Regions from separate parts of the Homo sapiens genome. Here all the other regions are linked to region 3. The links come from fine-mapping of genetic effects on gene expression. A gene starts in region 3. Each other region holds a variant in brackets. All regions are shown on one strand. Distances are from middle to middle. Region 1 overlaps SLC15A2 (solute carrier family 15 member 2). Region 2 overlaps SLC15A2 (solute carrier family 15 member 2). Region 3 holds the start of SLC15A2 (solute carrier family 15 member 2).

Region 1 (4,245 bases), 24 kb before region 3:
TTTGAGATACCCTATGCTGTAAACACTATTCATCATTTATACAAACACTTCTGTTCTATACTATTTCTGTTCTTGAGCTCATTCTGTTTCTTTCAGCCCATATCTCTGTCCTTTAACCACATATCCACAGCTAATTGTAAGGGAATTTCATTTCTTTAATTTTCCTTTTATTTTCCAAATTAACAATGAGCTGGTATTACCTTTGTAGTTATAAAATAGTGGTTTTTTCAATTTCATTCAATTAAAATCAGTAGAAATACTCCATCTTGGTTCCCTCCCAGATGCACTTTCCTCCTTAACGGATTTCCCAGCTTCAGCGTGATGCCCCTCTAGTAGATCCTCTGCTAAAGATGATTTTCTCAGTGACAAGTAGCATTTTCCAGTATCCTTACACATCAGAATGCACAAATCACTTTACTTTTCTCTCCCATCACTTTTTAATATCTCCATTCGTCTCATTTAGATTCACTCTACCACTTTTTCTCATTCATCCTCTCAATTTCCCCAAAGCTTCTCCAAATAGCATCCTTTATCTATAATACCCTTCTCATGGTTGATAGAAAAAATAGTTCAGTGGAGGAATGCTAATCCTGAGAGTCAAGTGGGCAGATAAAAAAGTACCTAGACGGCTGGGCGCGGTGGCTCACACCCGTAAACTTAGCAGTTTGGAAGGCTAAGGCGGATGGATTACAAGGTCGAGAGATTGAGCTGACCAACCTGGCCAACATGGTGAAACCCCATCTCTGCTAAAAATACAAAAATTAGCTGGGCGTGGTGGTGCGCACCTGTAGTCCCAGCTACTTAGGCGCTAAGGCAGGAGAATCACTTGAACCTCAGAGGCGGAGGTTGCAGTGAGCTGAGATTGCGCCACCACACTCCAGCCTGCTGACACAGTGAGACTATGTCTCCAAAAAAAGTAAAAAATAAAAAACAAAAAAAGAGATACCTGGACAAAGGAAAATTTTGGGTAGGGAATAAACTGCTCCTGAAACTAAGAATGATCCTAGAAAGAGGCTGGACACCACAGGAATGCTGGTTGCAATAGTGACAGTGGAGTGATAATAGGAAGACTTATGTAATCAACTAAAGTCATACTTACATGTCAAAGACACTTAACTAAAGAAGATGAGTATAAACCTTGAATTTCTCTACTATCTACTCCTTCTAGTAGATGATGTTGCCTCTTACTTCACAAAGAAAATGGAAACCTTCAAATGGAAACTCCTTCAACTCCCTGCCACCAGATCTATTAATTCTTGTATCCACACTCATCCTGTCCTCCCTCCAGGTAGGTGAAGGTGATATTCCTCCTCCTATCCGCAGCTAATTTGCTCATATGTGTTTTCATACTGATTATACTGTCTTTATCTTGTATCTTCAACCTCTTTCTCCACTGGATTATTCCTAATAATATTCACACATGCTCAATATCCTCTCTTGAATCCATGTCACCTTCCAACTATAAATACTATTTCACTTTCTTACTGATAGTGACAAGAGACAGATAAATTCCTAGGCAGACACGGACGGGTCCCAGTGAAACCCGACCTTCAAGCCAAAGACAGTTTAAAGCCTGAAAACCGACTTGCCGGTTCCTGATAGAGTCCATGACCTGAGTGAGAACTTCTATCTCCGTCTTATCCTCTCTCTCCATTGGTTCCTTTTGGATGATGCCTTTTAACCAATCTAGTGGTACTTTTTCCAAACCCACCCATGGACCAATCAGCATGTACTCCCCCATTCAAAACCCATAAAAAACCCACACTAAGCCTCACAGACGGCTACCTACTTCGGGTCCCCTCTAGGAGCTCAGAGCTTTCCTTCTGCCACTCAATAAAATTCTTCTCTGCTTTACTCACTCTCTGGTGTCCACACACCCCATTCCTCTTCATCATGGGACAAGAACCCGGAACTTGCTGAGCTGTGGGTGATGGGAATGAAAGGGCTGTGACACCC[C/G]TGGGCAGCTCGCCAAGCTATGGGCAGCGGGAATAAAAGAGCCGTAACACGCTCCCGCTCGCTAGACTACAGGAGAGAGTTGTAACATGCTCCTGCTCGTTGAACTACAGGAGTGAACAGCTGTAACATTTCTGGGGGCTCAGACCTTGGGACTCCCTGAGCAGGAGCTATAACACCTCTTAGGACTCTGCAATTGCTAGCATCTCCGAGTTTTTGGGCGCCACCGTGTTCCCCTTGTCTAGATGCCGCACCCAACACAGAAGCTGCTCGCTACATGCCCAGTCCAGTCGCAGGCTGAGCGAGCCCAGTGGGCCAGAGCAAGGCCCAGACAGAGGCGGTAGTGGCCACAGAGATTTCTGGCTGACAAAGCAGCACTGAAGGAATCCTGTAACATTTACTTCTCAGTCTCCTCCAATCAGTCTTCAGCCTCCACCATTTACCATAACTGATCTAATCGTATCAGTGACCTCCTTGTTGTTGTATTTAATAGACATCTGTCACCCTTATCTTAATCTCCCACTCAGGAACATTTATCACTCTAAATGAATCTTTTCTTGAAATCTTCTTCATATCCAAGATAACGCTATTACCACTTTGGCCATTCCTTCTTAGTCTCATTTGTGGGCTTTTCCTCTTTGCCTGTCTTTTAAATCCTGGCGTTTCTTGAAGTTTGAACCTATCCCCCCACCCCACTTTTTTTTTTAACCTTACTCTTCTAGCTTTTAGTTATCTATCTTCATTTCATGGTTTATTGCTACCCATATACTAATGACTCCAGATCTATATCTATAGTGCAAACATTTCTTCTAAGCTCTAATCCTGTATTTCCAAATAACTGTTTGGTAACTCCAATTAAATATTCCAAGAACATATAAAATGCAACATGTTCAAAACTAAATTTATCAACATTGCCCCAAACTGGCTTTTCCTCACTAGCTCAGTTAATAACCCCACTACCTACCCAGTTGTTCAAGGTTCAGAACACTACATTAAACCTTGGCTTATCTTCTCCCTCACTTAACATATCTAACCATTCTAAGGTTTGTTAATTCAACCAGGGCCAGATTAGGGTAAACTGAGTGAAGCACTCATCTCAAGCACTAAATTTAAGCAAGTATCAAAAAATTCGGTAATCAAAATAAATATTATCTTTGCCTCACTCCAACACAATCCTTTCTCTACATTATAGAAACATCATTGAAAAATTAAAATCTAGCAATTATTCCTCTGTTAAAATGTTTTTAGAGTTCCCCACTCTCCCTCACAATAAAGTTCTAATTTCTTATTGGTTTAAAAGGCCCTTCATTATCTGGTTTCTGGCAGTTTCTCCTCTTTATCATTCTTTTTTATGCTTTAGGTAATCTGAATGCCTTTAAAACCTTTAAACATGTCATGCTATTTCTCAGCCTCTTGTCTTACAGCTACTGTGTCCTCTTTCTGCATCACTTATAATTTCTTTATTGATTAATTGCTGTTTGGCCCTTAGGTCTCACCTTAAATGTCATTCCTTTAGGCAAACTTTTTACAATCCCCAAAGTATTATTTATTTATTTATTATTTTATTCATTTATTTATTTTTGAGACAGGGGCTTGCTCTGTTGCCCAGGCTGAAGTGCAGTGGCTCAATCATGGCTCATCGCAGCCTTGACCTTCTGGGCTCAAGCGATCCTCCCATCTCAGCCTCCCAAATAGTTGGGATCATAGGTGTGCGCCATCATACTCGGCTAATTTTTAAATGTTTGTATAGATGGAGTCATGCTGTGTTGTCCAGGATGGTCTCAAACTCCTGAGCTCACGCAATCCTCCTGCCTCGGCCTCCCAAAGTGCTGGGATTACAGGTGTGAGCCACTATGCCCGGTCCCTCAAGGTCTTAATTAAACATTGCTTCTATGCATTCCCATAGCTCTCTCTGTACTTTCCTAGATCACACTATATTGATCTGGGAAATACTGATCATACCATATTGTAAATTCCTTTTATTTGTTTGTCTTCCTTTCCCTACTGAACTATATAAGTTCTTTGGGAACATGAATGCTCTAGGTATCTAATTCACCAATGTGATCCCAATACCTAGCACATAATATGGCACACAATAGGTTCATTAAATGTTGGTTAAAAAAATGAGTGAATGAAAAAATAAATTAATTGGCTGGGCGTGGTGGCTCACACCTGTAATCCTAGCACTTTGGGAGGCTGAGGCAGGCAGATCACAAGGTCAGGAGATCGAGACCATCCTGGCTAACACGGTGAAACCCTGTCTCTACTAAAAATACAAAAAATTAGCCAGGC
Region 2 (4,245 bases), 48 kb before region 3:
TTGGATATCCATTAGCATGGGTAGAAGCTCAACATGTCCAAAACAAAACTCATACCAGAAAACTTTTCTTATCCTAGTCTTTGCTATTTCTAGAAAATTGCATCCTGATTCATCCTTACTACTTAGGACCAAATCTAGGAGTGAGCTTTTTTCTTTCTTTCTTTTTCTTTTCTTTTTCCTTCCTTCCTTCCTTCCTTCCTTGCTTCCTTCCTTCCTTCCTTCCTTTCTCTCTCTCTCTCCACCCCCCACCGCTTCTTTCATTTTGAGACAGGGTCCTATTGTCCAGGCTGGAGTACAGTGGTGTGATCATAGCTCATTGCAGCTTTAAGCACCTGGGCTCAAGGGATTGTTCTGCCTCAGCCTCCTGAGAAGCTGGGGTTGCAGGTGCACACCACCACACCCGGCTAATTTTTTTATTTTTATTTCTTGTAGAGAGGGGGTCTCATTATGTTGCCTAGAGTGGTCTTGAACTCCCGGCTTCAAAGAATCTTCCTGCCTTATCCTTGCAAAGAATTGAGATTACAGGTGTAAGGCACCACATCTGGCGCATTTCTTTCTTTTAAATTGTGTATCCAAACTACACTCAAATCTTGTCAGTTCTAGCTTAAAGTTTAATTCCAAGTCAAACCATTTCTCTCCACCTCCACTACTATCACCTTGTCCAAGTCACTACCATCTATTGCCTGAACTATTGCAAAAGCCTCCTAACTTAACTCCTTACTTCTTTTCCTTCCTGACTATAGATAATTCTCCCCTTAGCAGCCAAAGTGATCTTAAATGATCACATTATGTCACTCTCATGTTCTAAACTTCCAATGGTTTAACATGTCACTTAGAATAACATCAAAATGTCTTACAATGGTGACAGTCATATATGTCCATATATAGTCAGAGTCTTTAATATGCAAATGTTAAGAAAAACTCTATATTGCAGTTTCAGTCAATGACAGACCAAATATGTGATGGTGGTCCCATTAGATTATAATACTGCATTTATACCTCTTTTCCAATTTGTGTGTCCACATTTTTTCAAATGAATTATGTCATTCACTTTTTAAAAAATTGATACATAACAGATATAGACATTTTCAGAGCACATATGAATAATTTGATACATCTATATAATGTGTAAAGTTTTTTGTACCGTTTCTATGTTTAGATATGTTTAAGTATAAAAATACCATTGTGTTACAATTGCCTACAGCATTTAATACAGTAACATGCTGTGCAGGTTTGTAGCCTAGGAGAAACAGTCTACACCATATAGCTGGAGAAACAGTCTATACCATATAACTTAGATGTGTAGTAGGCTATACCATAGGTTTGTGTAAGTACACTCTATGATGTTTGCATAATGACAAAATTGCCTAACAATGCATTCCTCAAATGTATCCCTGTCATTAAGTGATAAGTGCTAGAATGTAAGCCCACATTATGATGTAGTTTCCAAAAACAACTCATGTTACCTTACACTGCATTAACAGAAGTGCATTGTTTGAAGAAAGGCAGGTGCTAGTTCTTCCAGTCAGACTACTTTGGAATGTTATATTTGACTCCAGGCACTTCATATTAAGATATCTTAATATTAATTGCTGTATTTCAGATAAAGAATGTTTTTCAGAAGACAGAAAGTAGGATGGTAAAAGGACAAATTATGCCTGGTGAGGAACCATTACAGGAACCGAGAATCTTTACCTTGAATACTTGATGATTAGGGAAGAGCCATGAAAGTTCTCCCCAAATAGCTAAACATCTGCCACATGAAAAAGGGGGTATACATATTCTTTTCTTTTTTTTTTTAGATGAAGTCTCACTCTTGTCCCCCAGGCTAGAGTGTGATGGCGTGATCTCGGCTCATTGCAACCTCTGCCTCCCGGGTTCAAGCAATTCTTCTGCTTCAGCCTCCCGAGTAGCTGGGATTACAGGCACCTGCCATCACACCTGGCTAATTTTTGTACTTTTAGTAGAGACACGGTTTCACCATGTTGGCCAGGCTGGTCTCGAACTCCTGACCTCAGGTGATCCACCTGTCTCAGCCTCCCAAAGTGCTGGGATTACAGGCATGAGCCACTGTGCCTGGCCGGCTGTTATACTTATTCTTGTTAGCTACAGGGGAAAAAAAACAATGGTAGGAGGTTTCAGAGAGGAAGCTCAGCACTTACAAGGAAGAACTGCTCAACAGTTTTTTCCAAACCAATGTTCTGCAGCGTACATGTTAATTTAAACAAGGTATCTTGTGTCTTTACTGCAGGATATCTCAGAGTCTTTAATATGCAAATGTTAAGAAAAGGATACAGTATGCCACATTTCCCAAA[C/T]TTATTTGTCCATAGACACTTCTATTTACAGAACTGTGTTAATGTCTCTTGAAACAATGGTCATAGAACAGTTTGGGTTAAAGCTATTTAAAAATGAACAGGCTGTCTTCTAAAGGAGTAGGGTCAGGTTCACATCAAGATATCTGGAAAAACTGGTTGGTCTGGCTGCCGCTCTTATATTTCTGAAATGCTTGTCATTAAAACTGAAGTATATAAAGTTTGGGCACTTAGAGCAATTTCTCTTACCTGTTAACAGTAACATTATCTGTTAATATTAACAGGTGCCTGTTAACATGAACATTGTTACGTATTAACATTAACAGTATGAGACCCAACACTGTTCTACATGAGAATAATGTTTTAAAACCAATGGAAATGAAGCTCTCTAGAACAGTGATTCTGAACTTTTTTCCTAGTAACACACTGCACAGTCGTGCCATTCCCGTGTCTGTCCTCTGATTCATTCATTGTGTATGAGGTAATGTTTCTCAATTTTTTTTCATGACCATACACATACACAAACAAAACCCTCATGCTCTACCATCCCTACTCCCACAAATTTTGATAGGAACCTCACATAGGACCATGCTCCTCTATTGACATTTCCATTTTAGAACCTCAAACCTAGAGCATTAATGTAACTTTTTTTGAATAAAAAGAAAATTTCTAGGCTTCAAGGCAGAAATGGTATTTAAAACTTATGGGAAAAGTAAATCAGGAAAACAACATCAAAAAGGAACTACTTTGATATTTTTGAGGCTAAATGGAAACATTAATAAAGGAAGTTGGACTTATAGAAACATTGTTGTTATTGAATATTTGCTGCAATAAGCAAGACAAGGTGTAATAATAAGAAAAAGCTGGATCAGCAAGGTTGACAAGACAAGGTTGCAAATTATAATTATTGTTTATACAACTGTTCACTGAAGGGCATAGACCAGCGCCATAGAGGCTAAGAAGAATGTACTCTGTAAAAGAATGACTGGCTCTTCAGGATTTCTACAACTTACACCTGTTCCTGTTCTCCAGAACAATGTTTACTAATGCTTACTATCTCTAATCTGGTTTCCATGATCTATCCATACTGAGAAAGGAGGGTTTGGATAAGTAAATAAAATACTATCATAATCAGAGAGATATAACTTCTCCTGTGTTTTAATAAAATGGCATTCTGCTTCCTACCATCTATATTGACAAATTTACTAAAGTCATATCAAACCTAGAGAGCTGACAAGCCAGGCCCTGGCTGGACCAGATCACATCATACATACCAATTCTTGAGGCCCCTGTGAATAGCATAATTACATTGCTTATAAAAAAAAAAACTTGAAATACCATTTCTTTGTTATTCTGCAATTTTGCCTCTAAATCAGCACCTCAAAAATTAGGGCCATCAGTCCTAAATGGCAGTTACCTATAAAGGAATTCCCATAACTTTGCATACCCACAGAGAATGATCTCCATTATACGTGTGTATTTTCATGGTCATTTGGAGACACCAGGCCAGCTCCAGCAACACTGCACAAGTTTTAATGAGTTCACTGATGGACGGGCAGACATAGAGTCTCTGGGGCCTTGTTTAAAGATGTACTGGAAAACCAGTCCTGGAACTTCTGTCATTGGAGAAAGGTGGAGGAGATCAGCTCTGATATGCTGCTATCTCTCTTGTCTAATCCAGTAGAAGAAAAAAAATGCTTCAAGACAGGGCCAGGAATTGGGGTCAGGACAGAATCTAGGGAGTCATCAGAGTTTTGTCTTCTTGGTCTCTAGTTTGATCATGTTCCCCTGGATGTGAGGAATGTGCTTATCTGCTGGACCCCGCATATCCTCTGTCTTTACAGGAACATAGTAGTAGCCCATGATGGAGAAGATCAGGCAGATCACCAGCAGGAGGCAGGAAAACAAAATGAATTCGGCCCACTGCAGGGGG
Region 3 (4,245 bases):
AGTGCAGTGGCCATTCACTGGCACAATTACAGGTGCCTGATAACCTTGAACTCCTGGGCCCAAGCAATCCTCCTGCTTCAGCCTCCCAAGTAGTGGCGACTACAGGCACATGCCATCATGCCCAGCTCCACCCACTTACCCATTCTCAAAGTCTATGTTCTGGTTTGTCTCAGGCCTTTCTGATCTTGGCCTACATATTAGGTGAAATCCTATGAGAGATTTATTGGAAGTCTTGGCCAAAGTAAAGGACCAATTTGGACCAAGGCAGAAAGAGTGGACTCGGGAAATAAGTGCATATAAAGAGACCAGGCTGTCACAAACATGGGGTGAGGGTGGGTGGAGGAGAGTAGGTAGGACTCTTGGACACAAAATTACCTTTCATTCCATAATAGGAAAAGCGCTCGCAGAATTCATTCACCACAATGAAGGCAATGCTCAGTGGATAGTTGGAGCCACAGATTGTCTATTCAACAAGAAGGCAATGATTCAAGCATGAGCTGTTTTTCCCTGTTTCAACAATTAGATTTCTTCAAAACTGAAAAATTCATTTATTTCAAATCATCTTGGTAGGTAATGGAGCAATGGTCTCTACTCTTCATGACACACCTATTAGGTAACACTAAAAGTGCTTATATTACTGATTTAGAAATAATAGAAGCTACTCTGAATATTATTTTGTTTCTTATTTATTTTACATGGACTTGCTCAAATATTCCTTGGACCTGCTCATCTTCCCACAACTACTAAATGAAAAGCCTAGGGCTCTGGGGCAGAAGAATGGTGATATTTACTTCCTAGGAACAGAATAAAGAGGTAGCCTATGGAATACCTGATATCCAAGCAGTGAGATTCAGATGTCAGTCTCTGCTTAGCCCCACTATGGGGACTCTTGTCCCCAGCTGTTCTGTTTGCCATGCTGGGAGGAATCCTGGCAATATGATAGCTTCTACTTCAGAGGCTGCTGGAGTCAGGCACAGAGCCCAACATGGAGGACAGAGATTCCTAAGGGTAAGCTAATTGATCACCTTGACTTTAGGCAGAGTTCTTAAATCCTGTAAAATTAAATGTCTACTCTTCCTACTAAAGAGATTCTATAACATTTTCATGATAATCCTACTGGACATTAAAAGAATTATGCTTTTCATGTAATATATCAGTCAGAATATAAGGAATGTTATGTTTTATTTTAATTCCCTATCTATTACAATAGACCAACTAACATGAGAAGAGACATAGAGGTATCTGTCCTCAGTACAGTCAAATCTTGTAAGATTTATATTGCCTCATTTCATGAGAAGTATATACATCTTTGCAAGTAGCCCTAAATTCTTTGGGACCAGAAGAGATATCATTAACTAAAAAAATAGGCAAAATAATAAAGTAATGTATTATTCTTTTAACCCTAGGGATATATATAAATGATCCTCCTAAATATTAATATATTTTAATGTTTTATAATAGCTTGTTTGAAACATACAATGAACTGGGCTTCTTACCTTTGCAGCTCACAGCTTGAGAATTATGCAATCTGGAGTTTAGCCGACACACTGTTAGCTAGTTAGGCAACACTGCCACTGGCTGTGTTAACATACTGATACTGGCATTGTCACTACACCTGTCTCAAAACCTCTGTTCTGTTATTCCAAAGAAATGAGAATAACATCACCTTTTGGCCCACTGTAAGAACTCAGTAAATTTTGGCTATCATTACTATATCCTCCCCACTTACAGAATTTTAGTGTAAGAATTGACTGAGATGATGAGTTTAGAAGTGCTTTAGCGAGTATATAAATGCAAAACATTACTATTCTCTGTTTCTCTGTCCTATCTCCCACAGTAAACTGGGAACACATAGTAACAGAAATTGGATCTATTCTGAAACTTCCATTGGTGTTCAGCAGAAGACTCTGCACACAGGGAGAACTAAGGGCAGAGTTTTTATATTGGTAAAGAAAGAACAATCACACACAGTTCTTCAGACAAGAATGCTTGCCAAGTTTCCCTGGACATTCGAATTGCTTTTTTCCCCCAGGGAAACAGAATATGCAATGAAATTCAGCAAGTCCCTGGATCCCAACTGAAGAACTTTGACTACCTCTTCCTGCTGCTTTGTCTTCTTATGTAAAGGAAGCTTCTGTTTAGATTTGGTTTCAGGTGAATTCTAAATCCAAGAGAGAAGCATTTTAATACCCTAATACAGCTCAGCTGGAAGCTCCAGAGCCCAAGGAAGAGAGCCAAAAGAGGGAGGCCATTCCTCTCAGAGGCAGGATTGAATCTAAGGACTCACCGGAGATGGCTTCTTTGGAGGGCTAGGTGGTCGAGGTGGTACCTCTTCAATGGAGACAGGTGAAAAAAGAGTTTCCTTGGACTCATTTTTCTGGAAAGGATTCATGGCTGGCTCCTTACTCTCTCTCTCTCCTCAAGCATTTGGCTTTAGTAGGCAGTTAGGACAGCTGCCAGCCTACTCTGAAAAGAAGGACTGGGAGGGGGAGCTGGTGGCTTCAGCAACTCAGTTTAACTCTGTGGGTGTCAGCTTCAATAGCTTCCTGATCCAGAGCAAAGCAGGAAGCTATAGTTAAAAAGAATGTGTAAAAGTACAGCACAGCAAAGTGAAAACATGCCAAAGACAGAATGAAACAATGCTAGAGAACTGATTAGAAAGTCTATGTTTAAGAAAGATTATCTTTGCAAAGGAGTAGAAGATAGTTAAGAACACAACACCTCGAGCACAGATTGAAAAACTGATTCCATGGTCAGGCGCGGTGGTTCACGCATATAATCCTAGCACTTTGGAAGGCCCAGGCAGGCGGATCGTTTTAGGTCAGCAGCCTGGCCCACATGGTGAAACCCCGTCTCTACTAAAAATACAAAAAAAAAATTAGCTGGGTGTGGTGGCGGGCGCCTATAATCCCAGCTACTCAGGAGGCTAAGGCAGAAGAATCACTTGAACCTGGGAGGCGGAGGTTGCGGTGAGCTGAGATTGCACCATTGCACTCCAGCCTGGGCAACAAGAGCGAAACTCCATTTCCAAAAAAAAAAAAAAAGAAAAACTGATTTCAGGGTAACAATAGCTGTAATTTATTGAACATCTACTATTGAAAGGTTAATATATATGAATTACATCTATGTTGTATATCTATAACATATATATTTATTCTAATTCATATTACTATCCCCATTTTATAGAAAGTAATGTTCCCAGAGGTTAAGAAATTTGTTCAAAGTACCTGTCCACTAAGTGGCAGATCTGGAATTTTCACTATGCCATGACAGCTGGGAAAAGTGGAGTTAGTGTCAGTCATTATTCAGGTATGGAGGTTACATAAATGGAATGTAGGAATGCAGAGGATTAAAATGCATTGGAGAAGGAAAGTCATCATAAAACTGAGTTTGGAAGATAAGAAAGATGGTGAGTTTTGGCTGGGTGCAGAGGCTTACGCCTGTAATCCCAACACTTTGGGAGGCCGAGGTGGGCTGATCACAGCTCAGGAGTTCAAGATTAGCCTGGCCAACATAGTGAAACCCCATCTCTACTAAAAATACAAAAATTAGCTGGGTGTGGTGGCACGCGCCTGTAGTCCCAGCTACTCAGGAGGCTGAGGCAGGAGAATCGTTTGAACCCAAGAGGCAGAGGTTGCAGTGAGCCGAGACCCCACCACTGCACTCCAGCCTGGGCGACGGAGCAAGACTTGAAAGAAAGAAAGAAAAGAAGGGAAAGAAAGGAAAGAAAGAAAGAAAAGAAGGGAAAGAAAGGAAAGAAAGAAAAGAAAAGAAAGGAAGGAAGGAAGGAGACTTTTGTTTTCAACATCATAAAAGTTCAGCTAGAAATAGCCTATAAGCAATTAAAGAGGTGGGGCTAAAGAAAATGAGAGAAAAGGATTGGTGATATACATTTGGGAACCATTGTTCTTCTTTGCTAAAGTCACTCCTTATATTTTCATTTTCTCACTTCAAGATTAATCTATTCTTTCATTTAATAAATAAAATTTAATTTGAGCAAAAATTGTGAACCAGTTACTTTCTAGGTACTGTTGTGAACACCATTTTCCTTAATTATACATTTAGTCCTTATCAGAAGAGGAACAAGAACAAACATCATAATGCTAGGTGCATTTTATGCTGTGTTATTTTTGTCAAGCCAAAGAAGTAAAAGGATAAGAAAAGAGCATGGTGCCCCTCTAGTTGTTTGTCAAAAGAAAAGGGAAAAGAAAGGCTAGAGAGCTATAAAAGAAATAAGAAAAATGA

The links. PIP is the estimated chance that this variant, and not a neighbour inherited with it, causes the effect. A credible set is the group of variants that fine-mapping cannot tell apart.
Region 1: its variant is the best candidate, but not a certain one, in a credible set for the expression of SLC15A2 in whole blood (INTERVAL, PIP 0.84).
Region 2: its variant is the best candidate, but not a certain one, in a credible set for the expression of SLC15A2 in whole blood (INTERVAL, PIP 0.77).

Annotation. Positions count from the first base shown.
Region 1 is chr3:121,916,978-121,921,222 of GRCh38, reverse strand. The region is part of intron 7 of SLC15A2 (solute carrier family 15 member 2); the gene reads right to left. Among named protein-coding and RNA genes, the nearest start is that of SLC15A2, 25 kb to the right of the region's middle. The variant C/G (reference allele first, on the strand shown) is at 1,957.
Region 2 is chr3:121,940,821-121,945,065 of GRCh38, reverse strand. It overlaps SLC15A2 (solute carrier family 15 member 2), which reads right to left. Exons shown (of 22, transcript NM_021082.4): 22 at 878-4,235. The coding sequence ends at 4,059. Among named protein-coding and RNA genes, the nearest start is that of SLC15A2, 49 kb to the right of the region's middle. The variant C/T (reference allele first, on the strand shown) is at 2,316.
Region 3 is chr3:121,892,624-121,896,868 of GRCh38, reverse strand. It overlaps SLC15A2 (solute carrier family 15 member 2), which reads right to left and starts at 2,468. Exons shown (of 22, transcript NM_021082.4): 1 at 2,288-2,468; 2 at 376-463. The coding sequence starts at 2,392. RefSeq lists enhancers at 2,976-3,508, 3,509-4,042.